3 linked regions of the Homo sapiens genome follow. The protein of the gene in region 2 interacts with the protein of the main gene of each other region in a pairwise test. Each region holds a gene or a part of one and is shown on either strand. Other genes may lie near its edges.

The links. Proteins that work in one complex are often made in the same cells at the same time.
Region 1: the proteins of MEP1B (region 2) and PRAP1 interact in a protein complementation assay, tested with the Homo sapiens proteins (one study listed by IntAct).
Region 3: the proteins of MEP1B (region 2) and IFITM1 interact in a protein complementation assay, tested with the Homo sapiens proteins (one study listed by IntAct).

Annotation. Positions count from the first base shown.
Region 1 is NC_000010.11:133,342,016-133,350,554, forward strand, and holds the start of PRAP1 (proline-rich acidic protein 1 isoform 1 precursor), read left to right. Parts: upstream 1-5,357; 5' UTR 5,358-5,402; coding exon 5,403-5,410; intron 5,411-8,079; coding exon 8,080-8,146; intron 8,147-8,539. Other genes in the region: ZNF511-PRAP1 readthrough, read left to right, coding at 8,080-8,146. UniProt on the Homo sapiens protein: Lipid-binding protein which promotes lipid absorption by facilitating MTTP-mediated lipid transfer (mainly triglycerides and phospholipids) and MTTP-mediated apoB lipoprotein assembly and secretion.
Region 2 is NC_000018.10:32,213,892-32,221,472, reverse strand, and holds the end of MEP1B (meprin A subunit beta isoform 1 precursor), read right to left. Parts: intron 6,392-7,581; coding exon 6,212-6,391; intron 4,483-6,211; coding exon 4,356-4,482; intron 3,713-4,355; coding exon 3,508-3,712; intron 1,243-3,507; coding exon 1,228-1,242; 3' UTR 1,069-1,227; downstream 1-1,068. UniProt on the Homo sapiens protein: Membrane metallopeptidase that sheds many membrane-bound proteins. Exhibits a strong preference for acidic amino acids at the P1' position. Known substrates include: FGF19, VGFA, IL1B, IL18, procollagen I and III, E-cadherin, KLK7, gastrin, ADAM10, tenascin-C.
Region 3 is NC_000011.10:308,647-315,954, reverse strand, and holds IFITM1 (interferon-induced transmembrane protein 1), read right to left. Parts: upstream 1,916-7,308; 5' UTR 1,785-1,915; coding exon 1,599-1,784; intron 1,034-1,598; coding exon 842-1,033; 3' UTR 683-841; downstream 1-682. Other genes in the region: IFITM2 (interferon-induced transmembrane protein 2), read right to left, coding at 6,790-6,942.

The sequences.
Region 1 (8,539 bases), on a different chromosome or scaffold from region 2:
ACCTTGCTTTACCTTACTTACATCTTTAAAAACCCATCTCCAAATATCGTCATATTCTGAGGGGTTAGGACATCAATGTATGAATTTAGAGGGGACACAGCCCATAACACCGTCCTATAGGAGTGTAGCTGTGGCTTGAGTCCACGTCGCCCTAGTGACAAGTGGTGCTGAACATCTTCTCAGGGTGGAGTCACCATTTGTAAATCATCTATGGTGAAATGTCTGTGCAAATGTTTTGAATATTTTTCAGTTGGGTTGTTTGTCTTTTTATTGTTGAGTTGTAAGAGTTCTTTTTATATTCTGGGTATAAGTCCTTTTCTTTCTTTTTTTTAGTTTTATTATTATTTTTTTGAGATGGAGTCTCACTCTGTCAACCAGGCTGGAGTGCAGTGGTGCAGTCTCATCTCACTGCAACCTCCGCCTCCCGGGTTCAAGCGATTCTCCTGCCTCAGCCTCCCTAGTAGCTGGGACTATAGGCGCCTGCCACCACACCCAGCCAATTTTTGTATTCTTAGTAGAAACGGGGTTTCGCTATTTTGGCCAGGGTGGTCTCGAACTCCTGACCGCGAGTGATCCTCCCGCCTCGGCTTCCCAAAGCGCTGGAATTACAGGCGTGAGCCACTGCACCTGGCCCTTTATTTTTAATTTTTAAAAAGTTTTAATTATTATGGGTACATAATAGGTATATATATCCATGGGGTACACGGATGCCATATGTAATGATCAAACCAGGATAATTGGGGTATCCATAACCCCAAGATTGTATCATTTCTTTGTGCTAACATTCTAATTCCACTCTTTTTTGTTAATTTAAAATATACAACAGGCTAGTCACAGTGGCTCATGCCTGTGGTCCCAGCACTTTGGGAGGCCTGAGTGGGAGGATTGCTTGAGCCCAGGAGTTCGAGACGAGCCTGGGGACCTCGTCTCATTTTACTAAAGACTAGATGTTTTAGATAATATATTGCAAACATTTTGAGTTCTGATATTTTCTCCCAAGGGTTGTTGTTGCTGTTTTGTTGAAATCTGTGGACTTTGTTTCCCCTGTAGCACGTGGCCTGGTGTCTCCGCCCAGTTTTTTAAGCCTATCTTCCTTGAGTCACACTGGGTTGTGTGGTTGGAGGCTGTGCTCAGGCCGCGGGACCCACTCTGCTGGTGCCTCAAGGGTGGGCTGGGGGCCACGCTCTGTGTGGATGCAGTTTTTAAGGTGCCCGACCTTTACTTCCCACCGGCTGTCTCCCGTCTCCTGAGTGTGAATGCACAGACTTGTGTTGGGCCAGAGGAATGGGGAGGTCAGCTGGGACTGTGTGGGAACCTGGGGAGGCTCCCTGTGCCTTTCTCATTCCAGACCTGATCACCCCATTCAAGTTCGGGCTGGCCTGCCAATCACTGCTCATAATCCCCTTGGGGACCCCAGTTCCCTGAGCCACTGGCCTTCTGCTGCCTCCCCCGTGGAGCCACTCGGCCACTGAGGGGTGGGTGGGAGTGTAGCTGCCCAACAGGCTCATTCTGCTTGCTGCCCAGAGAGAGCCGATTTATCAGGGCAGAGAGAAACTGCAACACGGAAAGTTTAATTCACGCGGAGCCGGCTGAACGGGAGGCTGGAGCTTTATCACTACTCAAATTTTAAAGGATAATTTGGTGGGTAGGGGTTGGGAAGCAGGGAGTGCTGATCGGTTGGGTTGCAGATGAAATCACAGGGAGTCGAATCTGTCCTCTTGTGCTGAGTCACTTCCTGAGTGGGGGCCACAAGACCAGGTGAGCCAGTTCATGGATCTGGGTGGCACCAGCTGTTCCACCAAGTTCAGAGTCCGAAAAATGTCTCGAGCACCAATCTTAGGATTTACAATAGTGATGTTTTCCCTAAGAATAATTGGGGAGGCTTAGAATCTTGTGGCCTCCAGCTGCCTGACTCCTTTTTTTTTTTTTTTTTTTTTTTTTGAGACGGAGTCTCGCTCTGTCACCCAGGCTGGAGTGCAATGGCGTGATCTCTGCTCACTGCAAGCTCCGCCTCCCAGGTTCAGGCCATTCTCCTGCCTCAGCCTCCCGAATAGCTGGGACTACAGGCGCCTGCAACCACGTCCGGCTAATTTTTTGTATTTTTAGTAGAGACGGGGTTTCACCATGTTAGCCAGGATGGTCTTGATCTCCTGACCTCGTGATCCGCCTGCCTCGGCCTCCCAAAGTGCTGGGATTACAGGCGTGAGCCACCGCGCCCGGTCCTGCCTGACACCTAAAACATAATTTCTTTTTTATTTTTCATGAAAGCCACTGACTTTCTTGATCTAAAAAACTTTACAAGGACAGTGACTGTTCTGCCAAAAAAGGAGCCAAATAGTATCAAATGGACTGAAAGTGAGGGTGGAGGTGAGGGACGGGGCCAGGAATCCATTCAGGAAAGCTGGTAACTGTCACCAGGGAAAGTGAAAAAGGAAGGGGGAGACATGCAAGAGTGAGAGTCCAAAAAAGTTGAAATGGTTAGGGGAGAAAACTCCCAAAAGACCCAGAGTGCGTCAGACGTGAGTATGACAATAGCAATCTTCTCCTTTGTAGAGGACAGGGGAGGAGTCCCGACTCGGCTACAAACTCTGGGTGAGGGCTGGGGATTGAGAGCTTCCTGGAGAGCATCACAAGAAGGCATCGCATGCTCTCGAAGGCATCCGAAGTCCCGGGACTGCTTGGTGTTGGCACCACGAGTCCTTTGGCCATTCCCGGAACAGGTCTTCATCTTTCCTCAGCACCAGAAACTGGCCAAGGACAACATAGGCCTTGTCAAAGCCCCTTTCCTCCAGCTTCTTGCCCAGGACTTCACCAATCCTGGCCAGGCTCCCCACTAGCTTTTCCCCCATGGGCTCTGCCCTGAAGTCTCGGTGCTTTTGGGAGGTTGGCATCTTGATCAGGCTTAATCGGCAACTTCAGTTCCCGTAACGGTTCCTCCCGCCACCCGGCCGCTCCGGCCGATACCTCAAGCCACTAGAAGTTTCCTAAACCATAATTTCTAATCTTGTGACTAATTTGTTAGTTTTACAAAGGCAGTCTGGTCCCCAGGCAAGAAGGGGGTTTGTTCAGGAAGGGGCTGTTTTCATCTTTGTTTCAACATTAAACTATAAACTAAGATCCTCCCAAAGTTGGTGTGACCTACACCCAGGAATGAACAAGGACAGGTTGGAGGTTAGAAGCAAGGTGGAGTCGGTTAGGTCAGATTCACTATCAGGTTTTCGCAAAGGTGGTTTCAGGAGCAGCCCCAGGCAAGAAGGCCAGAGGAACATCTGTTCTCACCCAAGCCCAGCGGCTTCTTCGGGTGACCCCTCCTCAATAGCTCAGACGCTGTGGGTCACGTTGGAAATTCCTGAGTTGGCCTTTCTTGAGGGCCCTCACTCCACCCCCTTGGAAGCACGGCCTCCAATTGTGTCTGAACATGCAGCTTCGGGAGAACCATACCCTGCAGGCCGGCGGTCTCAGAGCCCCCAACAGTAGCTGCCCGCTGGGGGTTGTCGAGGAAAAGAGTGAAACCCTGTAAAATACTTGGAGAGTGATTCTGAGCCAAATATGAGTGACGGAAGGCCCATGATGCCGTCCCAGGAGATCCTGAGAACATGTGTGGCCCGAGAGGGTTGGGGTGCAGCTGGTTTGATACATGTTCGGGACACGAGACATCACTCAGTACGTGGGAGATGTACATGGGTTTGGTCCAGAAAGGCGGCGGGTGTCCAGGTCATTGGTGGATTCAGTAATTTTCCAATTGACAATTGGTCAAAAGAGTTAAGTTATTATCTAAAGACCTAGAATCAATAGAAGGGAAAGTCAGGGTTAAGATAAGGTGTTGTGGAGACCAAGTATATGCAGATAGAATCAATAAAAGGGACTATTTCTTGTCAGAGTCTGTTCTATTAGTCTTAAGGTCTCTGTTTTAATGTTAATGCTGGTCAGTTTTGCCTGAATTCCAAAAGGAGGCGGGTACAATGAGGCCTGTCTGACCCCCACTTCCCATTATGGCCTGAACTAGTTTTCAGGTTAACCGTGGAATGCCCTGGGCTTAGGGAGGGTCCATCAGTCGGGTGGGGTCAGGCGGAGATTGGAATTGTGTTTTTGTTTTACAGGGTGTGCCAGGGACGGCTAAAGAAGGTGGTCAGGGCCGGGCGCAGTGGCTCATGCCTGTAATCCCAGCACTTTGGGAGCCCGAGGCAGGCGGATCACTTAGGTCAGGAGTTCGAGACCAGCCTGGGCAACATGGCGAAACCTCGTTTCTATTAAATATACAAAAATTAGCTGGGCGTGTTGGTGCACACCTGTAGTCCCATCTACTCAGGAGGCTGAGGCGGGAGAATCACTGGAACCCAGGAGGCGGAGGTTGCAGTGAGCTGAGATCGCGCCACTGCACTCCAGCCTGGGTGACAGAGTGAGACTGTCTCAAAAAAAATAAAATAAAAAAGGCAATGAGGGCACTGGGCCCCGTGGAGCGGGCCCTGGCCACACAGCGTGCAAGACTCCTCAGGCTGGTGTGCCCAGTAAGGAAGGACAGGAGGGAGCGCCTGGAAGGGGTGGGGAAGGTGGTGGCGTTGGGGGTGAGGGTTCCACGGTGGTGGAGCTGAGCTGGTCCCGCCCTGCCGCAGGTGGTGGGCAGGGGCAGGTGTGACAGGCAGGTGGGCTGGGGCTGGATGGGGGATTTGTCACGCCCACCTGAGGAAGGAAGTGCTTCAGCTGAGCTGGGGACAGCTGCCCACGACACCCTTCCAAGTTGCCTTGGTTGTGAGCACGGTTCAGCCTTCATGACAAGCAGGTTTTTTTTTTTTGGTGTTGTTTTGTTTTGTTTTGTTTTTTGACTGAGTTTCGCTCTTTGTTGCCCAGGCTGGACTGCAGTGGCGCAATCTCGGCTCACTGCAACCTCCGCCTCCCAGGTTCAAGCAATTCTCCTGCCTCAGCCTCCTGAGTAGCTGGAATGACAGGAGCCCACCACCACGCCCACTTAATTTTTTTTATTTTTAGTAGAGACGGAGTTTCACTATGTTGGCCAGGCTGGTCTCAATCCCCTGACTTCAGGCAATCCACCTGCCTCAGCCTCCCAAAGTGCTGGGATTACAGGTGTGAGCCACCGCGCCCGGTCAACAAGCATGTTTTTAAAGGCAAATTTCTTCCTCAGTCGTGTGGCAGGCCCTGAGCAGGCAGCTGGGTGTCCCCGCTCAGATCCAGGCCCGAGTGGGCTGGGCGGCTGCAGAGCCAGTCACCTGAGCTACCCAGGGTGGGATCCCTGGCCCCGACCTCTGTCCTGACACGCCCCAAGCGGCAGCAACAAAGCCCCAATTGGCCTGGGCCTGGGCAGGAGGAGCTGGGCCGGGTGCCAGATACTGGGATCAGCCACTGCAGCTCCCTGAGCACTCTCTACAGAGACGCGGACCCCAGACATGAGGAGGTAATGCCACCATCCCTGAGCCCCAATCCCCACCCCACCCAAACCTGGAGGCCTGGCCCTTAGCCAGAGGGGGCCCAGCTGTGCTGCGCTCCAGGGGGCCTGGTTCAGGGGAGTGTGCGGGTGGGAGGGAGAAGGAGGGGCCCTCTGAGGGTCTGGGGTCTGCCACCAGGCTCTACCTCCTCTGTGGCCCCGAGTGCACTTGCCTCTTGGTTCCCCTGGCCTGGTGGAGAATCACCCAGGGACCCCCACCCGGAACAAGGAAAGGGGAGGTGCCAGGCTGAAACCAGCAGGCCTGTGACTGCCCAAAAGGAAGGGGGCTGGGGGAGGGGAGGGGCTGGGGCGCAGGAGCCAGGGGCTGCCCTGAGGTGGTGTCACCCTGGGAGCTGTGATCTGGAGCTCAGGGAAGCACCCGGGCTCCCGCTGGACCCTGGAATCAGAGGCTGCCTTCCTTCTGTGGGGGTGTCTGTCTTCCCCCTCCTTGTGTGGGGGACCCCTCTCCCCGCTCCTGTGGAGGTGCCCTCCTCCTCTTCCCCCTCCTCTAAGCCAGGGCCCTCCCTGCCCCTCCTCTCCTGGTGTTTCTCCCTTGTAGAGAGGTGGCTTCTGGGTAGCTTGGGGACCCTTTGGTGCCCAGAGCCGTTTGCCTGGAGAGGGGACCCACGGGGATCCCACAGCCAGGCTGCTTGGCAGTCACCACCGACCACCTTTCTAGGGGCTACCGTGACCCGAATCCCAGGCCCCCAGGCTGTGTGTCATGGGAGGTGGGCACCAGGGGTGGCCCAGGCAGCACGGCAGTGGGATTGGGGTCCAGTGCCCAGACAAGAGCCCCTGCCCAGCATCAGAACCAGCTGGGGGTCCTGAGGAGAAGCAGGGCCCCCGAACCAGACCAGACCAGGTCCCGGCCCCGGGCTGTCCGGGGCATCCCCCCTGCCCTTTGACCTCTCACCATGGCTGAGTCACCCAGAGAACGGGCAAAGGTCCCTGTGGAGCTGCAATCCAGGCCTGCAGGGTGTCCCAGACACTGATTCTTCTGCCTCAGCAGGAGTAGCTGCGATTACAGGTGTGTGCCACCACCCCCAGCTAAGTTTTGTTTTTTTTTTTTTGAGACAGAGTGTCTCGCTCTGTCGCCCAGGCTGGAGGGACTGCAGTGGCGCCATCTTGGCTCATTGAAACCTCCACCTCCCAGGTTCAAGTGATTCTCCTGCCTCAGCCTCCCAAGTAGCTGGGATTACAGGCACCTGCCACCACGCCTGGCTAATTTTTTTTTTTTTTTTTTTGTATTTTTAGTAGAGACAAGTTTTCACCATATTGGCCAGGCTGGTTTCGAATGCCTAACCTCAAGTGATCTGTTGCCTCAGCCTCCCAAAGTGCTGGGATTACAGGCGTGAGTCACCGTGCCCAGGCAGTTTCATATTTTTAGTAGAGACGGAGTTTTGCCATGTTGGCCAGGCTGGTCTCAAACTCCTGACCTCAGGTGATCTGCCCACCTCAGCCTCCCAAAGTGCTGGGATTATGGGTGTGAACCACTGCGCCTGCCCCAGACACCCTTGACTGCAGCCCTGCTGAGCCCTGTACAGACCCAGAGCCCCGCCCCACCCCAAGACCACCCCACCCTGACAGACGCAAGCCTCCCCCGCAGGGCCCTGAAGAGACAAGTCTGCACCACATCACACACGCACGCACACACAGACACACTCCCAAACCCTCACACTCTACACACCACACACGCATGCACACAGCACACACCCACCCCCAAACCCTTACGCTCCACCCCACACACAACATACATACACATCCAACACATACATGCACACACAGCACACACACACACCCAAGCCCACACACTCCACACCACACACAACATACACACACATCCACCACACACAAACACACATAACATACACACACAGCACACGCACCCCCGAACTCACACACTCCGCACCACACACAACATACACATGCACCACACACTGAAGCACACAGTGCACACACACCCGAACACGACACCACCCACAGCATACATGCACACCCACCATGCACATGGTCCACACCCACAAAACACACATGCACAGACAACATATGCACACCCCCCACCACATACACAAACACACACATCCCGTGTCCGAACTGACCTGACACCCTGCCTGCCTGCCTAATAGTGCTGCCATTCACCCCTGAGCCCCCCAGCCGTGGCCCCGCAGCTCTGGGACACAGCAGGTGCCCTGCCTGCAGCAGCGTGCAGCCTCAGGGCTCTGTGGGCGTGGGGCTGTGGGCCCTCGCTGCTCCATACCCACCCATACCCACACCCATGTGCAAGTGTGTTCATGTGTGTCCCCACGTGGAGGGCGGCACAGAGGCATGGCAGAACCTCTGGAGTTTCCAAGCCAACCACCAGTGCCTGCCACAGTGGGGTCTGCCCAGACTGTGAGGAGCAGAGTCTGGGGCTGGGGCTGTGGGCTCTGGCCTGAGGGGGGCTGGAGGCAGGTGGGCCTGGGGCTTCTCCCTGTTCTGTGCCTGCGTGTCTTGGCCCATGTGAGCACAGTCCAGTAAAACTACCTGCGCTCCCAAGGAGGAACCCAGCCCAGGCCTCCCAGCTGCCCATCAGGGTGCTGCCTGGAGTTCAGGGCGTCCCCTTCCCCTACCTCACACTTCCCTCTCTGGCCCCCCCTCAGGCTCCTCCTGGTCACCAGCCTGGTGGTTGTGCTGCTGTGGGAGGCAGGTGCAGTCCCAGCACCCAAGGTAGGTGTGAGCCCCTCCCATCTGGGCAGCAACTCCAGTTGTCACCTTCTGCCCCTACAGCAGGGGATGTGGACAAAGGGCCCCTCTTCTGGCTTCAAACCCCAAGCTGGCTTAGGGGAGAGAGGCATGGGTACGCTCATGACTCTTGATGCCTGTGCAGGCATGAGGAGGGGGCAGGCTTCCCTTCCCTGGGGTCAGATGGACAGGCCTCAAGACACCCAGGTGGTCCTAGGTGGATGATGTGGGTCCAGATGAGCCCACATGACCCCAGGTGGACGAGGTGGGTCCAGATGAGCCCCCGTGACCCCAGGTGGAGGAGGTGGGCCCGGATGACACCCACGTGGTCCCAAGTGGAACAGGTGATCCCAGATGAACCCATGTGACCCAGGTGGA
Region 2 (7,581 bases):
AAATGATCAATGCACAGTATTGCAATATGAGACATAGCTGAAAGACTCAAAATACAGGATAGACTAATGGATTTTACAGGACGGAATACAAAAGTTCATTGATATGGTTTCGGATTTTGATTGCAACTAACCTTTAAGAAGTTACCATTGTCAACTTTTAACAAAATTATTTCAAAAGAATATTCATATTTACCTGAGAAAGCTATTCAAATATGCCTCCTTTTTCCAAGTACATATTTGTGTGAGGTTAGATTTTCTTCACATCCTTCAAACAAATTAATATATCACAACAGAATAAATGCAGAAGCATCTGTGAAAACTCAGCTGTCTTCTATTGAGCTAGGCATTAGAGATTTTCCCAAAAAATGTAAACCAATGCCCCTCTCTTTGCTAAATATTCTCCTGTTTTGAAAAATATAGCGACTTTTCATATTTATGTTAGCATATAAGGGGCTTATTTTTTGTGATTAATAAATACATTAAGTTTTTCCTGGTTTGAATTTCTAATAAACACTTATTTAAATCAATGAACTGCTCATAAGCAAAATAGATCCTCCGTAATCTATTTGAGATCCTCAGTAACCTATTTGAGATCCTCAGTAATTTTTAAAGTGTAAAGATTCCTGAGATCCAAAACTTGGAGACTTGCCACTCAAAGAGTGAAAGGTTTTCTTGCTGATTACAGTCGTATGCTCAAACAAATTCTAAACCAAGCTCATGTACCAAAGGGATTATATAAGAAAACAAGAGTAGCCAGTTTTGGAGAAGAATGTATATTGACAGAGAGTGGGGAGCTGTCTCATTACCCTTCCCAATGCTGGGAAAGGATGGCACTGAAACTGCTGTGATTCTGCATGGATGATCATTCCCATTGGGTGTTTCTAGTGGGTTTCTAAGGAATCACTTGTGAGGACACCACACTTGGCCCCCATATGGAAGGATCAGTAATTTGAAAAGCCATCTCTAACTGTTGCTCTCCCTTTTTTCTAGACAATATTATACTTCCAGAAGAGCCTGAATTGCTTTTCTCTCATTTAAAAGAAGGAAACACAAACAGCATTTCACCAATTTGACTTTGACCAAAATAGTGATTTATAATATTTCCAGCTATTTACAGAAAAATATCCACTTTTAGAAGAATGAGGTGGCTGTAATATCACTTAGGCGAAATCCATGATGAAGAATCCTTTTTAATTTCATTAGCTGGCCATATTGTCGAGTTAATCTTCAAAAAGCATGCTGCTAAAAGGGGAAAGAACAATTGATGATTTAATTTCTAAATTTAAAAACTGCTATTTAAATGAATCATAATAAAATGATCTGGTCTTTAAATGAAGTCCCCATCAGCAGTCTCCTGGCCTCCCTCCTAGCTGGCAATGGCTCCTGCTCCTGGTCTCCATTTCGAGCCCTGGCTTTTCGGGCCCACATTATTCAGATGCTAAAACATTAGGGTGAACACATACATTCGCCTCAGAAAAAAAGGTCATTCTGATTTAAGATCTAAACGACATCTGGGAGATCTGTTACCAGTGAATTAGCTGTAGAAATGCCTAGCCTAAGATAATGTAAGTCAACTGCCTTGTCCTTAGGAATGTGTTTAAATGACCCAGAAACAAAACAGCTCTGTTGTAATATTATGGAGTGTGTGTGTGTGTGTGTGTGCATGTGTGTTTCCACTTACTATCCTTACCATGTCTCTAATACTGTCATGGTTTCCCTGCTTTATTGACTTAGCTTCCTAGCTTCCTTCTTTCTCTTCTCTTTGGTTTTGTCATTTTTCTTTAACTCCTTCCAGTTTTTACTTGCTAAGCAAGTTTATACTTGCTTATAACAGCTGTTACACTACCCATTCATTGTCAGGGAAATATCCTGGCAATCCCATCCACCCAGTTAACTTGTCCCCTCCTGCCCTTCTACTCTTCCACCTTCCATGCACCAACTCCTGGCTCATCCCAATGGCCCAGGAGACCGAACTTGCAGGCACAGCTGCCATCAGGTTGACCTACCAGGCCAAGTATTCACTGATCTTCCCCTTTTATTTTGAGTCATAAAATAAGCTGAAAGTTGTCTTAAAACAAAACAACCTGTTTATATTTTAAATACTTTTCTAATAATTTTGTGAAGTAATTGATCTATTGCCTTATTATTAGCATTAAACATCTTCCTGATGTTGAGGAAATAGGACAACAGCCTACGATAATACAACGATTTGCTTTCAGTTCATTATCATTGTTCATGTTTTGACTGACTTGATACCAGGCTGTCCCCTTTAAAAACTCGTAGCTTTAAATATAGTATGTCTTGAATAATCGTTTTTCTTAAGAAAATGTACTCTTGCTTTAGCCAATTGCAGTATTTTTATTTTTGGAGATATTCTAATTGGGCATTTTTTCTGACTGGCTTCAGTAGCAATTTTCAGAGACTCCAATTGGAATGAAATAGAAATGGAAGAATTTTAGGGCTTCACTTTTAAGTAATGCTCAGATTTTATGCCACTTTCTCTGTGCTTCTTTGAGAGGAATATGAATCTGCATGTAAAACTCTGTACTCTACTGCTGGAGTATGTAGTGGATGCTAGGGAACTGCTGCTTTGTCCTGCCCTTTGAATGAAGGCTGTTATGCAAGAAATGCCCTCCCCCAAAGGCCGTTGCCTTGCCCAATTTTATGCCCCCTCTTTGAGGGCAGCCCCCTTCCAGTGATGGGAGTACAAAGGCCTGGCCCCCTCCCTCGATTCAGGACGTGCCTAAGAGGGAGTCATCCCCACTCCAGAGCTCCCTGAAGGATGGGCTGAGGCCTCAGCTGCAACCACATCACATTCCAACCTCACCCTCTGCCCAGGCCAGCTCCCTCAGCCTATTATACGTGTTCCAGGAGCCCTCCCCAATAAACCTCCTGCGTACAAATATCCATCTCAGAGTCAGCTTCCCAAGGGACCCACTGGAAACAGGATCGTTTCAGGAGTCTATTAGCATTCTAGAGATTTTTTGAGGCAAGACTTTAAATCCTTTACTTGAAAACTTGCCTTAGAATTAGTTATTCCACATGAAGCCAGAATGAACTGGAACCTTCTTTAATGAAAAAGCTTCCCCAAACATGCCTGCATCCCCTTCCTATGGCCTCAGCTCACCACCACTACAAGACCTTTAGAACAAAAACACTTGCAGGCCACCTCTTCCCTTTACCAGGAAGGTTTGAACTTTCAGGCAAAATCAGTTGTGCCTTTCAGGTCACAGACCACCCCACACTCCAGGAAAAAAACCCACACACACAACTGTACACAATGTTGTATACAATTCCAGGAGGATAATGAACCTCCATAAATCCCAGTTTAAGAATCGTTGATTTACAGTGAAAGTAATAGGAACTTTTATAATCTGAAATCAGTTGTCCCAGCATAGGAAACAGAGAGAAGAAGGCAAGAACCAAAGTATATAAAAAATGTCCTAGTTCCTCTCCATAAGATTTCACCAATAGGTTATGAATAATCAAACATCAGCCTCAACTTACATTTTGCGGAGTCAAATTTGGTCGATTTGAGCTCATCCTTTCACGATATTTCTTCCTGGTGCAATAGACACTGACAAGGGTGATGATCAGCATCAAGGCAAACACAGCAACAGTAGATGAAACAGCAATGACTATGGTGTCTCGGGTGGAGCCTCTCTTTTCACACCTTTCTCCCATGTACCACCAGTCTTCCCCTGACTGGCACCTGCATGTTGAGAGCATGACTCAGAGTTATTAGTTGATATCTAACTCCAGAAATCTTCACAGTTAAAGATGTGGATCACCTTTAGTCTATTTGATCACCAATAGGTCATTGCTATATGAAACTATTTTACCCACTCTGGACTGGAGAGAGACTAGCACCTAGAGCACAGGTATAAACAATGGAAAGAAAAAATGGAATTCCTCCTAATCTGATACTAAAACAGTATCTCCAAGTTAGGAAAGGCCGATAGCACAGATAACAGAGAAAGTTTAGTTCTCAGTGTCCCATGCCCGCCACCCTCCAGATTCACATCTTGGCCAAGGGCTCCTCAGAACGTCAGTATCTTCATCTAGAAAATGGAGGCAGCTACACTTAAAATGACTGGACTGTTATGAGGACTTTTTCAGACAATTAGAATATAGAGTTCTATTTTTTTCATAAAAAAATTGTGTTGGCTATCACAAAGATAGTTCTTGAGGTTATCCAAAGCCCCAAAAGGAGAATAAAAAAAAAATTCTATGAATGGCTGTGAGATGAGAATCAACTGATTTCATTCATAAGAACTATTAAGTAATTAATCCTACATTATGGAAATAAAATTTCTAACCAAAGAATGGAGAGATCTCTTTCAAATCATCCTTACCTGCACTCAGCTTTGCCATCTCGAACAGTGCAGACACCGTCATTTTTACAGGTGGTTTTTGAGCAGAGGTCTTGAACACTAGGGGCTGGTGTTAGCTGGATTTGTGTAGAGTTGAGGTGAGATATGTCTAGGAAGATGGGGAAGAGTGTGGATGGAAATCAGCTTTTGTTTAACAATCATTTGATCTTTAATTTTCATTTTCTTTTAATGTTTCTTTTTTCCTTTTTTCTTTCTTTCTTTTTTTTTTTTAGAGGTGAGATCTTGCAATGTTGCCCAGGCTGGTCTTTGCTCCCAGGCTCAGACAGCCTTTCCACTCCGGCCTCAGAGTCCTGGGATTATAGGCGTGAGCCATGATGCCAAGCCCAATCTTAAGTTTCAGAATAGACAATGATCAGATTTTAGGCTTGTGAGAAATTCAGGTATCCTTGAAGCACAGTCTAGCAACATTCATAGGCAGCGAGATAAGAACTAGGCAAAGGGAAACTAGGCCAGCCTACTGGGGCTCCAACTCAACCACATGCTGGCCTGGATTCTGGGAGCCCAGAAGGGTACAAGCCACTGATACCAACTTTCAAGAGACAGATAAGGAAACCAAAACTCAGAAATGTAAAGTAATTGAGGGCATTGCCCAAGGTCACAGGTCTCTGGCTTGGTAGAGCAAATTGGTGGAGATTTGGAGCAAGACACCAAGTGCCCTGACAACCAGTGTTACATTCTTTGCAGTATTTGTTATTGCTTCTGGTTGAAATCGCTATGGTCAAAGAGAACTGATGCATACTGATTTTTGTTCTCTGCTACATAAAATATTTTCTCTCTTAACAGAAGTTATTTCTGAATAATCTCTCCAAGAGGTATCATCTAGATTTACTCTAATGGACACTGGAGTCAAAATTTTGTGGGTTTTAATTGCACCACCTTTCATCACAAACAAGAATCTGATTTACTGAGATCCAAGTGGGTCTTTAATAGAAAATGAGTTAAAATCCTACCACATAAAAAATAGAAACCACCAGAATTGCTGCAAAATGTATTTATTGGCTGCCAGGTGTAAGAAATTTAACATTAGTCTAACAAGAGATTAATGTCATTTCTGTCAAGATATATATATATATATATATATATATATATATATATATATATATATATATGCATATATGTATGCATGTATGTACATTTGAAACAGGTAAGATGCAGACGTTTCCAGTCATTTAATTTCATGTGCTTGTGTGATATTTTTATTTCAGGAATCCTAGGGTATAATAGTTCTATTTTAACTTATTTCTTTTCTTTTTTTGAGACGGAGTCTCGCTCTTTGGCCCAGGCTGGAGTGCAGTGGCACGAACTTGGCTCACTGCAAGCTCCGCCTCCCGGGTTCACACCATTCTCCTGCCTCAGCCTCCCGAGTAGCTGGGACTACAGGCGCCCGCCACCACGCCCAGCTAATTTTTTATGTTTTTAGTAGAGACAGGGTTTCACCGTGTTAGCCAGGATGGTCTCGATCTCCTGACCTCGTGATCCACTCGCCTCGGTCTCCCAAAGCGCTGGGATTACAGGCATGAGCCACTGCGCCCGGCCTATTTTAACTTATTTCTAAAGAAATTTCCCAACCTAAAGGTTTCCGCTATAGCTTCATGTGGTGGTCATTAAATTCTTTATTCTGGAATCCTCACTGTTTCAAATTAAATTATTTTCATATTGTTAATAATTCATATTCCTCCCAAACCCCATTCATGCCCATTCCCCCCACATCTCTATATAATACATCTAAAAGTGGAATGCAGAAAGAAAAACAGAAAATAATCAGTGGCCACAACAAAAAAAAACTAGTTTATATAAAACTATTTTTATTGACATACCTTCCACTGTCAGTAGGATATAAACATCATCTCCTTTTATAAAATCTCTGCTTTTCAGCCTTTCGTGGGTTATAAAGGCACTGGTTCCATAGCCCCCACCTCTTCTAAACTGAGTTCCATTAGAGAACAAAGCCACTGTTCCCACTTTAGAAGGCCTGTCCCAGAAATAGTTTCCATTATCTGAAAAAGCAATTTATATTAATGGAGTGTGTTTATCATCATCGTAGCTTTTGGTGGTAGGAAAGAACAGGCAATGTGAAACACAATTAGGCTGGAACTCAAAATAATTAAATGATGCTATTGACCTGTGATGTATTCCCTGGCAAATCACTGGGGCTTGTTCATTTATACTGTCCTAGAGGAAATGAAATTGCCTGGCAGGGAGGACCACACTCTAGAATAAGAGTGGAGAGGTACCAGAAGTTTCCTAGGTACCAGATATTCCTGGGAATATCATATCTTTACTTATTGGCCAGTATAGAAACCCTCCTATCTATTAGAATAATTTAGAATAGGCTTCAAGGCTACTAAGAGAGTCCTTTTACAAAGTTACAGATTGTCCAGTTAAAGCAATATGTTGCTGAGAGAGTTTTTAATATCAGCATAGGATGATTTATCTTATTAACTGAATTATTCACCTAACAGAGCAAAGTGCTTCAGAAGTAGAAGACAACAAGAAGCACTGCTTCTGGGAAAAGATAATGACCTACCCAGCCCTGAGCTGTTTTTAATGTCATTTAGTAAGAAACACTTTAGGAAAAAGTGAAGAAATTCTGAATGTCAAGTCCCTACAATTCCATTGGTGAATATTATTGTTTTCCTATGAGATTAAGTTGGATTTTTTTCTATGTCGATTTGGTCCATGTTTTTCATATATAGAATTCACATTTGGCAAAATTATTCAGCTTGCCATAATTCCATTTTTTCCTTTACTAGGGTCTCAGAAGCAAAGAATTATTAAAATTAGTAGTGTGATCTTTGCTTTCAGTGGGTTGCTTCTTTTTGAGATGGGAAAGATGGGGAATGATGTCATGATTAGCAAGTCCTCTGTAACTTTTTACTAAGAAATTATAATGCATTTTCATACCCTTCCCACCAACACTTGAATGCACCTGCTCAATACCTTCCTTCTGGTCAAAAACTACCCCCATTTCAAACGCTGAATTATTTTTGACAATCCCAGTGACGTGAACAAGGTAGCATGAGTTAGAAGAACCCAACATCTGAGGGCCTCTCCACCGCAGGCCTTTCCACAGCTTCCACACTTGACCTGTACTAATTCTCATAGCAAATCTGTGGAATGATTACTACAGCCCTGGCTTTACAGCTGAGGACACTGGGGCCCTAAGAGATTATTTGCTCAAGATTAC
Region 3 (7,308 bases), on a different chromosome or scaffold from region 2:
GAGCTGGCGTTCGGCGCCCGGGACCCACGACGCGCCCTGCGTCTCCGACTTCGTGATGCCTCGGACTTCCCGTCACATTTCAAGACTGCGGGATCCCGGGGCCCTCGCTGGCTGCACCAGAGGGGTCTCCACCTGGCGGGACCCTCTTCCCGAGCTCCCGCGGGGCTCCCGGTCGGAAGCTGCCCTCCCAGGCCCTCGCGAGCGCCCCACCCTCGGGCCATTGGCTGCCCCCACCCCAGGGGAGCAGGGAAGATGCCGGCTGGACTGGAGGAGGCAGCTGCTAGGATCCAGCACACCTGGATCACCCAGGAGAGGCTGCAGCCCTGAGGTTCCTTCAGCTGCTACCCTAGGAACAAAGCCCCTGCCCCTCCCACAGGGCCTAAGGTGCACACATCTGCAAGACCAGCTGCCCAGCCAGCTCAGAGGCAGGTTGTCCTGGCCCAAAGGTATTCTGGACAGTGTGTCCTTACCTTGGTGTCAGAGAAATGCCCACCCCACGTTCCTGGTCCAGATGCTGCCCACAGCAGGAGGCGGAAACCAGCAGATTCTGAGCATATCCCTGCTCCCCTGAGAGCTTCACAGAGGAGGGATACGGCTGTGCAGGGGCTGAGCACTGGGCTGTCTCAGGACTAGGCCGGGACCCCTCAGCAGGGCCCCCACTCCAGATGAAGTCACAGCATCATCACAAGCACGTGCACTTTATTGAATGACACTGTAGACAGGTGTGTGGGTATAAACTGCTGTATCTAGGGGCAGGACCAAGGGGGCAGGGGCAACAGCCCCAGCGTGCAGGGCCAGCATTGCACAGTGGAGTGCAAAGGTTGCAGGCTATGGGCGGCTACTAGTAACCCCGTTTTTCCTGTATTATCTGTAACATAATATGGTAGACTGTCACAGAGCCGAATACCAGTAACAGGATGAATCCAATGGTCATGAGGATGCCCAGAATCAGGGCCCAGATGTTCAGGCACTTGGCGGTGGAGGCATAGGCCTGGGCCCCGGTCACGTCGCCAACCATCTTCCTGTCCCTAGACTGGGGGAGAGGAGATGGTGAGGGGACCAGGATCCCCCAGCTGAGAGCCGCGTGCTATGGCTCCGTCTCCTCCCCGCCCTGAGATCAGGGACCACCTCCTCCCCTTCCTCACCCGGGCTCAGACTCTCCAGGAGCCTCGGGGCTCATCCTCCTTCTGCCTTGGCCCCAGCACAGGCTGTTCTCCCCACCATGGGGTGAAGTCACCTGTGAGTTCCCTTCTCACTTTCTGGGAGAGCCTGGGTGCCAGTCTGGAAGGTGAGGGTGTAATTTCTTACTGGGCTATAGGGAGAATTGCTCTGGGCTAATGGATAGCCAGGGACAGACTCTGAGCCAGCCAGCCAGCCTCCTGGAGCCTCCTCCTAGACCTGCACTGGGCAGATTCCCCAAAGCCACACACACACACAGATCACACAGACAAAGCTACTGACGTGAGCACACACGGGGCAGAGGTGCACACAAACTCACAGTCACAGGGACACACAAGTCCCCACCCCAGGCAGCATGTGGGCAGGTGGAGCCCCAGGCTCACCGGCACCCCCTGGATTTCCGCCAGGGCCATACGCACCTTCACGGAGTAGGCGAATGCTATGAAGCCCAGACAGCACCAGTTCAAGAAGAGGGTGTTGAACAGGGACCAGACGACATGGTCGGGCACGGAGGTCTCGCTGTGGATGTTGATCACGGTGGACCTTGGAAGGATGGTGCTGGGGGGTGGCCCCAGCACAGCCACCTCATGTTCCTCCTTGTGCATCTTCTGGCTTTGGGGAAGGAAGTGTTGAGTGAAGGTTTGAGAAGTGTGGTTTTCTGCGTGGAGCGAAGGGCCGCTGTGGTGTCCGGATGCTGGGACGGTGCTCAGTGAGACCTCCTTTCCCCTGTCGTTTCAGTTTCTCAGAAGTGTGTATTTCTCTTAAGTTTCTATTTCCTGCTGTTTGTAAATTGGTGAATTAGCCAGGGACCAATGAGGTGTGGTTTAACTTCTTGAGGATCAAATTACTTTATGGCAGGGTGGGAGGAAAGGCTGAAGGCTAAGGAGAGAGGCTTCCTCATCAGAAACTCAAGTCAGGACTAGTGACTTCCTAAGTGTTGGGTTTAGGGGGCCCTGGGGATTTTACCCAGGCTTGGGTTCTGTCCACCCCAGGCCAGCAAGTACAGGACCTCACTGTCCCGGTTCAGGGCCCCTGCCAGGCCCCCACACTCCAGGCGCCAGGACAATCCCCCAAAAGCCCTCACCTCACTTGTCGCAGGCCTCTCTCCTGAAATCCTTGCTCTTTCCTCAGGCTGCAGTCCTGCTCTGTGCGGGTTTGGGGACTAAACCTCCCAGTGTCTCCTGGTGCAGGTCAGAGGCCTGGTGGCCAAAGTTTCCTGCCCCAAAGCAGCCCTCCAGGCCCAGGAACGGGGACTCTGGGGAGAACTGACTCCCCAGAGGGTAGTGTGTTGAGACACGGGGAGGATTCCAGGGCCTGTAGGGGCAGCTTCAGAGCACAGGGCACACATGTGCCACCCCCTACCTTCCGGGTCCCAGCAATTCCCATGGCTTTGGTTGGGGTGAGTGCTGGATGACCTAGGCGTTGGGTCCTAGCCATGCAGGAGAGACCTGGAGGGTTGGCAAAGCCAAGTCTGGGGCTGTCAGGCCTGGGTGCCCCTTCACAGGGACGGGGAATTGTAGACTGAGTAGCAGAAGGGAGCCCTCAGGCACAAGGATCATGAATTACAAATTGCAAATTACATAAAGGAAAAATCAGAGCCCAAAGGTGGGCCTGCAATTATTAATGTAATGTTCTTAAGTTCTCTTTCTGCTTTCGTTTCTGCCTGCTTTAAGTCTGCTGTTACTTTTCTACAGAGATAAAATCCACTGTTTGCATCCAACCATTTCTTTTTATTGTTTGTGTAAACCAATGAATTTGTATTACTATCTCATGGCTGGAGTTCTGAAGTAAAACCATACTTTTGCTTGAGTGTGTATGTGTGTATATGTGCACATACACATATTTCGTTATGTGTTTTTGGCCACAAGTTACCAAATTTAGCTTAAACTTAAAGAGTACTCATAAATTAAATAATAAGCCTAAATGCTTTTCACGTTCATGTGACTTAAGTAGAATCTTTAATAAGCTAGCTTTAAAATTACTGGTAACGTTAGAAATTGTAGCAGGACGAGCCACAGACAAAACCCTCAGACATCGAGTTGAGGAAAGAAAGGGCTTTATTTGGCCTTTATTCGGCCAGGAGCATCAGCAGACTTAACATCTCAAACACCGAGCTCCAAAACCATCAGCCCCTCCCTACCCATTGCAGCTAAAAAAAAAAAAAAAGAACTAGCCCTTGCCCTTGCTTGGAGTCCCTGCTGGGCCTCCCCAAATCGCACACCAACCCCCCCACCCTCCACCCACCCCTCAACAGGCCGCCTCCAGCCCCAGCCACATCCCAGGCCACTTAGACCAAACTATGTCTGGGTCCCGGCAAGCCAGGGGTGGATGTGGATGGAGCGTGCTCTGAGACATCGAGGACTGCCTACACAAACTCCTCACAAGGCTCTGTGACCTCCTATCAAAGGCCACACATCACTGCGGAGTGGGGTGGGGCTTGAATTTCCCGTGGAAGGTATTTTGGAAGCTTCTTTAAATCACGGGCAGTTTAGGAAGGAAGAAACTGCAGGGCACAAGAGGGAGACAGGATTCTGAGGGGCAGGCATGGAACTGAAACCACCTTTGCAAAAGTCATAACTGAGAATATGATGACAGTGAAGGAGGTCTGACCCTAACCCACTCCGCCTGGCTTCTAACCTCCAAGCTGCCCTTGCTCATCCCTGGGCTTAGCCTAAACTAATCTGGAGAGAAACAGTTTATAGATCAAGGCTGAACAAGCCCCCTTCCTACCTGAGGACCAGACTGCCTTTGCAGGACTAACAAATTAGCCACAAGATTAGAAATTATGGTTTAGGAGTCACGCGGCTGGAGGATGCAAGATTCTGACCCCGCCACCCCTAAATTGCTCCCGGGGATCACAGCACTACTGTAGAACCTAGGATCAGAGTTTGAGATACTTTACAGACCCTGTACTCAATGGATCAGCTGGCACCACCTAAATCCACAATCTTGCTCATGTGGTCCTGTGGCCCCCACCGAGGAGCTGGGTTAGGGTTGGGAAGACAGCTTCGACTCCCCAAGACTTCATCTCCAACCGGACCGGTCAGCGCTCCTGACTCACTGGCCGCCTACCCACCATATCATCCTTCGAAACTCGGATCCCCACGTTTTTGGGGAGAAGGATTTGAGTAATAATAAAACTCCCGTCTCCCCCGCAGCCGGCTCTGCGTGAATTACACTTTCCTTATTGCGATTCCCCTGCCCCGATGCGACCAAGGGGCCCGCCCAGGAGCGCAGAGAATCCATTAAGGGGTCACAGGACCGGGCTCCCAGGGTGACTCCCTGGCCACCAAGTCCTCCAGCAGGTCACTCCTGGATTCCGGCTGGACCCCCTGCCCAGGGAGGGGCCCAGGAGACGCGGAAATCGGGTCCCCCGCGGGTGAAGGGGAGGTGGGAGCCCCAGAGGAGGGCGGGAAGGCTCGGCCGGGGACGTGCCCGAGGGGGAGGAGAGGGGCTCCCGTCCGGGTCCGGCGCTGCGGGTCTCAGGGTCCGCGTCCCGCCCACCCCGCGGGGGTCTGGGCTGCGGGCGGAGCCTCCTCCGGGACCTGCACCTGCGCCGGCCGCCGCCAGGGGCGCCGCTGAGCACCCGCCTCCGCCGCTTCCCCCTCCCCGCCGGGCGGGGCCGCGCGCCTCCCACCCGGGACCCACTTCGGAGTTCGCCCCCTTCGGGACTCGCCTCCGGGAGACCCCCGAGGGGGAGAGGGCGCTTCCTCCGCGTCCATCGCCCTTGCCGCCCCTGGGGTGAGAGCGCGGCTCCGGGGCTGGGGGCGGGAAAGGGTGGGGAGGGCGAGTAGATCCAGACCTGGAGTCGCGGGTGGACGGCGGGGCGGGGGCGCGCATGGCCACCCCAGCTCCCACCGCGGCCGCCCATGGGGCACCCCACATGCGCACACCGGAGACCGAACCGGGGAAGGGCGCTGTAACCAGGTCGGGGCGGGGGTGTCTGTCCGGGGGCTCAGACCCGGGTAGAGGTAACTTAGATGAGGGTCGCTCCACTCTCCTGCGCCGCCCCCACCACGGGGGAGCAGGGCCCATACCCGCTGGACGGGAGGGGGCAGCTGCCACGAAGCAGCACCTGGTCACCCAGGAGGGGCTGCGAGGCCCGGGGCTCCTTCAGCTGCTGCCCTGGGCACAAAGCCCCCTCCCTCCCACGGGCCCTGAGCTGCCCACATCTGCAGGACTGGCTGCTCCAGACAGCTCGGAGGCAGGCAGCGCGGTGCCCCCTCCACCCCCGAGGAACTAAAGCCAGGTCCCCAGCACCACAGAGCAGGGCCTGGGAGCAGCTGGGGAGCCGGTGCCACCTTGCCCCTCCCTGGCCCTGCTGGGGGCTTAACCCTTCCCTCTGTCCTGAGCCGACAGCCTGGATTGCCGACAGGCCGCGAGCGTGGCCTTGGGCCCAGGGTGTCCCGGACTCAGCACTGACGTTCCCGGAAAGAGCCCACGTTGAGTAGGAGCTGAGACCTGCAGGACACAGGAACTCCTCCCAGGGTCCTGGATCCAGCTGCTGCTCACGGCAGGAGGCCCGAAACCAGAAGGCCTGAGCACTTGCCCCGTCCCCAAGAGATGCACAGAGGCTGGAAGGGGCAGTGCAGGGGCTGACCAACCTGCTCATGAAAGGAGGGTCCAGCTGGGCTTCCTGGGTCGAGTAGGGGTTCAGAAAGCTGTGAAACACTCATTTCCTGCATCAGGACTTACTTCGGTCCTGGATGAAGAGTACTGAAGATACATGCCTAAAATATTCCTAACACCAGGATTTGTGCATGTGTTTCCTTCCCCAAGAAAGCTATAAACAGCAAAAATTCTGCTGTAAGCTTCCCTGTGTCCTCTCTCCCTCTCTTCCTTCCCCCTCCCCTAAAACTAAAAGGAATGTTAAAAGACCCTTTTTCTGTGACCAGCGGACCTTATCTATGCTCCCAATTCCAATTCCTTGTGAACATACTTTGTAAAGTCCTGTAAAATCCTGTCTCTTTTGCCATGCTGCTGCAAGGTCATAAAGTAGATAAAATTAGATAAAACCTAAGTTGCAATTCTGTTTTTCCTCAAAATCTAAGACATGTCACAAAATAATTTACTGCCTTTGTTTCTCTCTCTGGTAACATCTTCCCACCACATGTATTTCCCGCCTTAAAGAGATTAAAAGGCAATCACCCAAAACCAACAGTGGCTACCCTCTCCGGACCCCTTCCATGCTGTGTAAGCTTTGTACTGTCACTCTGCTCAATAAAACCTACAGTTTTTTTCTTCTCTTGGTCTGTGTCTCCATCACTCGCCGCGGGCAGCCGCCACACCCAATTCTTTGGTGTGGCTAAGGCAAGAACGTTTGGCATTACATTTAATCTCAGAACCAGCAGGACCGCTCCCCAGGTGAAGTCACAGCAGCACCAGAAACATATACACTTTATTGAATGCCATTGTAGAAAAGCGTGTGAGGATAAAGGGCTGATGCAGGACTCGGCTGTGGGGACAGGGCGAGGAATGGAAGGTGGAGTAAGTGGAATACAGGTCAAGGGCAGAGCTCCTGGCCTCTGGGGGCAGGGCGAGGAATGGAAGATAGAGTACGTGGGATACAGGTCACGGGCAGAGCTCCTGGCCTCAATGATGCCTCCTGATCTATCGCTGGGCCTGGACGACCAACACTGGGATGATGATGAGCAGAATGGTCATGAAGATGCCCAAAATCAGGGCCCAGATGTTCAGGCACTTGGCGGTGGAGGCATAGGCCTGGGCCCCGGTCACGTCGCCAACCATCTTCCTGTCCCTAGACTGGGGGAGAGGAGATGGTGAGGGGACCAGGATCCCCCAGCTGAGAGCCGCGTGCTATGGCTCCAGCTCCTCACTGTCTCCTCCCTGCCCTGAGATCAGGGACCACCTCCTCCCCTTCCTCACCCGGCTCAGACTCTCCAGGAGCCTCGGGGCTCATCCTCCTTCTGCCTTGGCCCCAGCACAGGCTGTTCTCCCCACCATGGGGTGAAGTCACCTGTGAGTTCCCTTCTCACTTTCTGGGAGAGCCTGGGTGCCAGTCTGGAAGGTGAAGGTGTAATTTCTTACTGGGCTATAGGGAGAACTGCTCTGGGCTAGTGGATAGCCGGGGACAGACTCTGAGCCAGCCAGCCAGCCTCCTGGAGCCTC